2 separate regions of the Homo sapiens genome follow, and region 1 is linked to region 2. Evidence: fine-mapped expression QTL. A gene starts in region 2. The other region holds a variant in brackets. All regions are shown on one strand. Distances are from middle to middle. Region 1 has its middle 8.2 kb from the start of KCMF1. Region 2 holds the start of TMSB10 (thymosin beta 10).

Evidence for each region.
Region 1: its variant is fine-mapped to the expression of TMSB10 in adrenal gland (GTEx, PIP 0.97).

The regions. Positions count from the first base shown.
Region 1 is chr2:84,960,755-84,965,137 of GRCh38, forward strand. No RefSeq gene overlaps it. Among named protein-coding and RNA genes, the nearest start is that of KCMF1, 8.2 kb to the right of the region's middle. The variant T/C (reference allele first, on the strand shown) is at 2,346.
Region 2 is chr2:84,903,461-84,907,843 of GRCh38, forward strand. It overlaps TMSB10 (thymosin beta 10), which reads left to right and starts at 2,196. Exons shown (of 3, transcript NM_021103.4): 1 at 2,196-2,258; 2 at 2,543-2,657; 3 at 2,929-3,211. The coding sequence starts at 2,558. The coding sequence ends at 2,963. LOC105374836 (a long non-coding RNA gene) reads right to left here and starts at 3,561. Exons shown (of 2, transcript XR_940308.3): 1 at 3,203-3,561. RefSeq lists a silencer at 1,953-2,492 and enhancers at 2,459-3,658, 3,463-3,522.

The DNA of each region.
Region 1 (4,383 bases), 57 kb after region 2:
CCTGACCTCCTGACCTCCTGATCTACGCGCCTCGGCCTCCCAAAGTGCTGGGATTACAGGTGCGAGCCACCGTCACTGGCCAATTTTTGTATTTTCTTAGTAGAGACAGGGTTTCACCATACTGGCCAGGCTGGTCTTGAACTCCTGACCTCGTGATACACCTACCTTGGGCTCTCAAAGTGCTAGGATTACAGGCATGAGCCACCGCACCCGGCCCATTGGCAACCTTCCTATAGCACCAGCAGAGGAAGAGGCATCCTGCTCCTGGTGGAAGCTAAATTTATCTGGGCTCCTTCTCCCCTCCATCTCCCACCCTCACCACCCCCACCTCCCTGCTCCACACACACATACACCCTTCAGTTCTCTGCTGCCTCTCCTGGATCCTTCCCCTAAACCTCTAAACACACTAGACTCTCCTATTCCTAAAACCAAAAACACTTCCCTTCACTCTGGGGCCTCCACTTACCATCTTTTAATTTCTCATTTATTTCTCTGACAAGCTTTTTTTTTTTTTTTTTTTTTTTTTTTTTTTGAGACGGAGTCTCACTCTGTTGAGTGGTGGCACAGTCTTGGCTCACTGCAACCTCCAGCTCCTGGGCTCAAGTGACCCTCCTGCCTCAGCCTCCCAAGTAGCTGGGATTACAGGAGTGTGCCATGACGCCCAGCTAATTTTTGTTATTTTTAGTAGAGACAGGGTTTCACATGTTGGCCAGGCTGGTCTTCAACTCCTGACCTCAAGTGATCCACCTGCCTCAGCCTCCCAAAGTGCTGGGATTACAGGTGTGAGCCACCATGCCCGGCCTCTGCCAAGCTTCTTTAAATACAAAAGAAAGAAAAAAGAAACAAAAGGGCTATGAAACCAGTGTATATGTTCATTACAGAAAATTTCAAAACTAAAAGGAAAAAAAGTCCTTCATACCTTATCATAAGCTCTCAAAACATCAATCAGAACTGCTTCAATTAGTTTTGTCACCAGAATGTAAACACCTCCAGGATGGGGACATAGTTTTCTTTTTCATGATTGTGTCCTCAGTGGACCCAGAAGACTCAATAAATATGTATTTATTGGGGACTACTAGATGGAAGAGAGAGGGAGTGAGTCAAGGGCTGAAAACCTACCTTCTGGGTACAATGCTTAGTGCCTGAGTGATATAATCATTCACACCCCAAACCTCAGCATCATGCTATATACCATATAACAAACCTGGGTAACATAAAAAAAAATACATCATCCATATTATACCCCCATAACCATATTGACTCTGATAGCCATCCAATCTTTACATGTTTTATTAAAAATAAAAAATGAGGACAGGTGCCATGGCTCACGCCTGTAATCCCAGCACTTCGGGAGGCTGAGGTGGGAGGATCATTTGATGCCAGGAATTTGAGACCAGCATGAGCAACATAGCAAGACCTCAACTCTAAAAAAAAAAAAAAAACTTAAAATTAGCTGGGCCTGGTGGTACATGCCTGTAGGCTCAGCTACTCAGGAGAGTGAGGGTGGGAGGATCGCTTGAACCTGGGAGGTCGAGGCTGCAGTGAGCCATGATCATGCCACTGTACTCCAGCCTGGATGACAGAGCAAGACCCAGTCTCAAAAAAACAAAAACAATAATGACATCAGGCTGTACATACATAATTTAGAAAAGAATGTTTTGTAACCTGCTTTTTTCACTAAAAACACATCATATTTCTAGTTCATTACCCATTTTTAGTTGCTGCTTTTGGTTTGGATAGACAATAATTTATAGGTTTTCAATTTTAAATATTAAAAAGAACACTGTGATAAACATTCTTGTGTCTAAAATCTTTGCATCTATCAGTAATTACTTAAATAGACTGAGTTGAGCTGGGATTACTATGGCAAAGAATGGGCAAAAATCTATTGCTCTTGAAACCTACCATAAAATCCCATTTGGAATGCTTGTAACAAGTCATATTCCTTTCTTGACATCCTCATTATCAAGTATTATTAAAAGTATTTTTCTGCCAATTTAAGAGGTGAAATGGTGTCTCCTTTTAATTTGGATTTGATTCCTAGTGGTTGAGTTTGTTTCACATTCTTATTTCAGCTCATCTTCTAGAAGTCATCTATAGCTACTGTCAGTTTCTAGGCTTCCAAGGACACCCTTCAGCCTACTGCAATGCAGCTTCTTACCCTACTCCTCCATGGACAGATGACATCCATTTCTGAAATCCAGGGGCCACACTTCAATCTATCTCATGAGGTATCTCTGCTTGGTGGACACCGATGTTCTCCCTTCCTGAAGACTCTGCTTCTCTGACTTCTGTGAGCATAGCCTCTTCTGGTCACTCGTTCTCTGGCATAGACTTCTTCTCTG[T/C]GGGCTGGCAGCGAACAGTGGGGCCTTCAGCATCATTATTGCTCAGGTCAGTACAAAGGACCACATAAGGGAGTATGATAGTGAGGAGCCAAGATCACTCCACATCTCGAGAAGAGATGATAGCAGCCTGGAATGGTTTGGTGGCCATGGGAATAAAGAGAAAGGGACTGATTTGACAGATGTTTAATGGGTAAACATCACAGGATTTGGCAATTGGCTATGGAAGATAAATGGGAGGAAGGAGTCTAGGATGACTGTTGTGTTTCATCTTGTTGGGGGGTGACTTGACTAGGCTGATGACTTTGCTCAATCCAATAGGGGATACAAAAACAGCAAAGACATGAAAGAGAAGATGATGATAGTGGTATCCCAGAAAATGAGAGGGTAACCAACAGCACCAAAAGTCAGGCAATCAGATAAACCAGTTTCTAAGCTGAGGAAGGGGAGTGACAATTCTTTCAAGAAGATTGTCCACAGAGAGAAACAATAGGGTAATAACCAGGAGTGCAGGGTTGAAGGGGCGTTTTTTGGCTGAGGGCAACGGACCAGTAGAGGCTGAGCAGCTGAAAGTACAGGTGCCAAGGGGGTGGCTGAAGGAGTAAGATCCCATTGATGGGATGAAGTGGGATCATAACAGATGACAGGTTGAACAGAAAGGCTATCTCCATGCATGAGGCAGCAGGATGCAGATGTACACACTCCCTTGGAGGCTCACAGTGGGAAGTGAAAGTTCCTGCATTTTGAACTTTCCTCCCTCTGTGAATTAGGAGGTGAGGTTATCTATTAGGCACGTGGGTGAGTAAGCAGTTGGAACCAAGTGGTGAATGTTTATAGAAGAGGGTTCTGACCAAAGACAAAGATTGCTCAATGGCACTGAGGTCCAACCGCAGTTGAATGCCCTAGATTCATAACAGCCACAATCTGTACACTTCTATCATTTTTAGTTGTTATATTCTACACCCCAAGCAGATACACACAGGGATAAACTGAGTCAGGCAATTCAGGCTTGGAAGCTTGCAAAGCTGGTAGAGTTTGAGGATGAGGGGTTTAAGGAGCTGAGGGCATGAATGAGAAGTCTGAGTTGACCACAGGGCACCAGTTGCATAAGGTAGAGAATGGGGTTAAAAAGGGAAAAACAAAAGAAAAAACCGGCTGGGCGTGGTGGCTTACACCTGTAATCCCAGCATTTTGAGAGGCCGAGGCGGATGGATCACTTGAGGTGGGGAGTTCAAGACCAGCCTGGCCAACATGGTGAAACCCTGCCTCTACTAAAAACATAAAAATTAGCCGGGCGTGGTGGCAGGCGCCTGTATTCCCAGCTACTCGGGAGGCTGAAGCAGGAGAATCACTTGAACCCAGGAGGCGGAGGTTGCAGTGAGCTGAGATCAGGCCACTGCACTCCAGCCTGGGCAACAGAGTAAGACTCTGTCTCAGAAAAACAAACAAAAACCATAACAGCAAGTGCAAACATCAAGGATTAGGCCAGGCGTGGTGGCTCATACCTATTAATTCCAGCACTTTGGGAGGCTGAGGTGGAAGAATCACTTAAAGCCAGGAGTTCAAGACTGGCCTAGGTAACAAAGCGAGACCCTTGTCTCTACAAAAAATAAGAAAATTAGCTGGGTGCAGTGGTGCACGCCTGTAGTCCCAGCTACTCAGTGTCCACTGATAAATAAAGATGATTGCTCGAGCCCAGGAGTTCAAGGTTGCAGTGAACCATGATCGCACCACTGCACTCCAGCCTGGGTGACACAGCAAGACGCTGGACATTAAAAGAAAAAAAAAAAAGGTTTAGTGGTAGAGAGTAAGAAAACTGAAAAATAGGAAGTTACAATAAGACAGATTATTAGAGTTTCGAGCATGGTCACAAGAGAGGAATGGGTGGTTGAAGTGGAAGTGCACACAGATTTGAAAAAAATCAAGGCCTTGTAAGGCCAATTGTAAGGCCATACTTGAAAACATTCAGGGTGGCAGAATTTGGGATGAAGACTGCAAAGCAGAATTGAGGCCTCAGTGACTCCTGCATAGTGACTGTGAG
Region 2 (4,383 bases):
GGAGCAAACCTAGACCCAATACAAAGTCTGGAGCCAAGCTCAGCCCGGCCCAGCCCAGCACCATCTGACCTGCCCATATAGGAACAAGAATAAATCATTGTTTAAACTCCTAAGCTTTGGGTGGTTTGTTACATGGCATATTGCAGCAGAAGTTAACCAATGCACTCATCAAATATAAGTGTGATATTCTAATGAGGTTGCTATTTGAAGTATCCACTTGAGGCCAGGCACAGCGGTTCACACTTGTAATCCCAGCTCTTTGGGAGGCCAAGGAGGGCAGATCACTTGAGGTCAGGAGTTTGAGACCAGCCTGGCCAACATGGTGAAACCCCGTCTCTACTAAAAATACAAAAATTAGCCGGACATGGTGGCACGTGCCTGTAATACCAGCTACTTGGGAGGCTGAGGCACAAGAATCGCTTGAACCCGGGAGGCGGAGGTTGCAGTGAGCTGAGATTGCACCACTGCACTCCAGCCGGGGCAACAGAGTGAGATCCGTCTCAAAAAAGAAAAAAAAAAAAAAAAAAAAGCTGCAGTGACCTGTGATCCCACCGCTGCACAGAGACCCTGCTAAAAAAAAAAAAAGAAAGAAAAAGTATCCACTCTATGCCTCTTCTTTATCTCACCTCAGTTTATGCCAAGGCTATTTTATAGATGAAGAAACTAAGGAAAAGATTTGCCCAAGGTCACACAAGCCTATGCTCTCTTCCCACTGTTCCAAACTGAAGGAACGTGAGAAAAGCAGGTAAAATCAGGAGGGGAGAAGCAGGGAGTGGTGCTCAGGCTTGTAATCCCAGCACTTTGGGAGGTTAAGGCAGGCAGATGGCTTGAGCCCAGAAGTTCGAGACCAGCCTGGGCAACATGGTGAAATCTCGTCTCTACAAAAAGAACACAAAAGATTTGCCGCTAGTGGTGGTGCACGCCCGCAGTCCCAACTGCTCAGGAGGCTGAGGTGGAAGAATCACTTGAACCGGGGAAGTCCAGGCTGCCATAAGCCGTGATCACACCACTGCACTCCAGCCTGGGTGACAGAGTGAGACCCTGTCTCAAAAAAAGTAAATAAATAAAATCAGGACCGAATTTAGGATGTCACCACCAAATCCCACTTTAAAGAGCTCGGTAATACTTCACACTTAAAAAAGGAAAGGTCAGGACAAATAAAAGAATGACCAGCCTTAACTCCGGGGCTGGTAATTTATGGAACTTATTACCTAACGGTGTTGCACAGGCTGAAAATACAACTTTTCTAAGAAAGATGTGAATAATTGCAGTATACCACTCCTACAATGGGTTAATAAGAAAAACAAGAACGTTTGTAGGCATGTGGGTCTCTATTATCCTCAAGGTTAACTTCAAGGAGGAAAACCGCACCCGCTGATACAGTGTTTCTAGGAGCTCGACGAGAAAAGGCAAACTGCGAGCCTTCTCGGGACGCCCTGTTCCCACCACAGCCCTTCACACAATGCGTCTAACAGCATTTAAGGAACACCCGCCACGCCAACGATCCTGCTGGAACCGCCCAGTTCAGGGAACAGGGGACGACTGACCAGAAGGCAACCGCCCCCAACCTGAGCAAAGAGCGCTGGAAACCTATTCCCCCCTCCCCCTACACCCCCCCGCCCCCCGCTCCACTACGGGACCCTCGGCTCGAATTCTTTTAGTGCAGGACCACCTTAGGACTCAGCCTCCCTAAGGAGAGGAAAAGTGGGGGAGGGAAGGGGACTCTGGAGGAGCAAAAGCAAGAGGCCTGGGGGCGACTGGGGTGGGGCGTCTCCTAGAGCGAGGATTGCTGCAGAGTGCGCGTGCACGCCCGCACATCCACACCCACGGCTACACATCATATCTGCACACGCACAAAACCACACACCCTCCCACGCCGGTCCCATATCCTTTCTGCGGGGTGAGCAGCAGATTCCCGGAAAGGGGGAAATGTAGCCGCAAAAGCAAAGCCGGGGGCCTGGCGCCCACTCTGGCGGCGACTACAGCCCCCACGCTGGGCACACTGCGAGCTGGGGGTGCCCGGCGCGGGAGAAGCCGCGCCCAGCCGGGCTGGTAGCCCAGCGGGGGGCGCGGCAGGGCGAGGAGCAGCCCGCGCTGCTCCCGCCCCTCGGGTGCCAGCACCGCCCCTGCTGCGGCGGGTGAGGGGCGGGGCGGGGCGCGGCGTATATAAGGCTAGGGGCGGGCGCCGCTCTTTTGTTTCTTGCTGCAGCAACGCGAGTGGGAGCACCAGGATCTCGGGCTCGGAACGAGACTGCACGGTGAGTGCGGCGCCGGGGCGGGGGGCCCACCCAGGGTGTGGTCGGATCCGGTGCACCGGGCGGGCGCGCCGCAACCGCGACAGGCGCCCTTCTCGGACCGGACGCAGGGGCCGGCGACCACGCCCTGGGACCGAGAAGAGGGGTGCGGGACGCGCCCAGATCCTCGGCCTTGGGGCTGCTCGGCACGCCTTGGCGCGAGTGCCACGTCGAGAGGCGTCGGCGGGGAGCGCGGAAGGGGACGCTGGCCCCCAGGCCCAGGTCAAGCGCCTTGGTTTGCCCACTAGGATTGTTTTAAGAAAATGGCAGACAAACCAGACATGGGGGAAATCGCCAGCTTCGATAAGGCCAAGCTGAAGAAAACGGAGACGCAGGAGAAGAACACCCTGCCGACCAAAGAGAGTGAGTGTGCCTCGGTCTCCCGCGCCCCAGCCCAGCCCCTCACCCTGCTCTTCCTTGCAAACCCACTCCTCCACCCCCCACCCCGCCGTTGTCCCCGGTGTGGGCGGCCCCGGCCACTCTTTCAGTTTCACAAAGCGCCTTGTTTCTCCCCAGCCCCAAGCTTCCTTCTAAATCCCCACACCTCGTGGGTGCCTCGCCCACACCGGGAAGCACCTCGGTTGCGGGTGGGGGTTGCAGCTCCCCTCCAGCGCCCGCTTCCCGCTCTCCACAGCCATTGAGCAGGAGAAGCGGAGTGAAATTTCCTAAGATCCTGGAGGATTTCCTACCCCCGTCCTCTTCGAGACCCCAGTCGTGATGTGGAGGAAGAGCCACCTGCAAGATGGACACGAGCCACAAGCTGCACTGTGAACCTGGGCACTCCGCGCCGATGCCACCGGCCTGTGGGTCTCTGAAGGGACCCCCCCCCAATCGGACTGCCAAATTCTCCGGTTTGCCCCGGGATATTATAGAAAATTATTTGTATGAATAATGAAAATAAAACACACCTCGTGGCATGGCTGGCGTGGTCTGAGTCTTTTAGTTGAGTATGCGTGGGCAGTGCCACTGCAGCAAAGCCCCTCGATGGAGTAGAGTTCCTGCCGCAAAGGGGAGGAGGTGGGTCGCAGAATGGGCTGACTCGGAGGGAGTTTTTAATTTTGGCTTTACCTGCTTCTCCGTAAGATTTCATGACTTGTTAGCCACTTAACTCTTGCTCGTAAGCAATCTGTGTAAAATTTAACCCCACTTTGTCCCCAGGTTGCGTTGGAAAATGCTTTTTCAAAAGAGCAAGGTTTGCTTTTGATAAGCTTCGAAAGCCCCACTGTTTCCCTCTGGCCTCCTCCTAGCTGACTCAGAAGGGAACACTGATTTTAAAGAAAGAAAAGACAATCTGGAATGTTGGAAATTGGGTGAGGTCACAAAGTCTCCGGAAGCCTTTCTTCGGGAGCTTAAAACAAAGGCGGGATCTAGGGATACAGCAACGGGAACGTCAGAACTAGAAGAACCAACACTAGAACTGGGGGAGGGGAGGGGGGAAGAGCTTTTGTCTTTTAACCCTAGTTCAGAACCTCCCACAAAAACATTAGCCATTAGAGGAAGTGCTAGACTGATCTGCTACCACCCAGTGCTCAGCAGGAAGGGTGGGGATGTGGTGGGAGGGAGGAAGGGTGGGCTGGCGCTGGCGCTGGCGGCCAAGCTCCAAGGGATGACACCTCAAACCCACAGGGAAGGAATAGGACCAGCCCAAGGGGGCCTGACAGTTGGGAACCTGGGGCTGCAGGCCATTCAGAAGCAGAAGAAACAGGCTTATAAAGACAGGGGTGGAGTTTTCTTTAAGGAAGGTGGATAGGACACTGCTTAGAGATTCGTCCCACATTTTTGCCCGGCCCCAAGAGGCTGGGCACTGGGTGAAGACAGTTAATTCGAATAAGATACGGTCCCTGTCCACGAGGAATTTAAAATCTGGTGAGTGAGATAGCCACAGCAGACCAGAGTCAGGACACCTAGGCTTGGCAGGGAGACTCATGCCCAAAGGCATTCTCTCTGAACTCCTATCTGCACCTCCCTCCTGGTACCTGGACACATACATCACCTCCCCCATTAGAGTAAATAGAGAGACTTTTTTTTTTTTTTTTTTTTTGAGACGGAGTTTCGCTCTTGTCTCCCAGACTGGACTGCAATGGTGCGA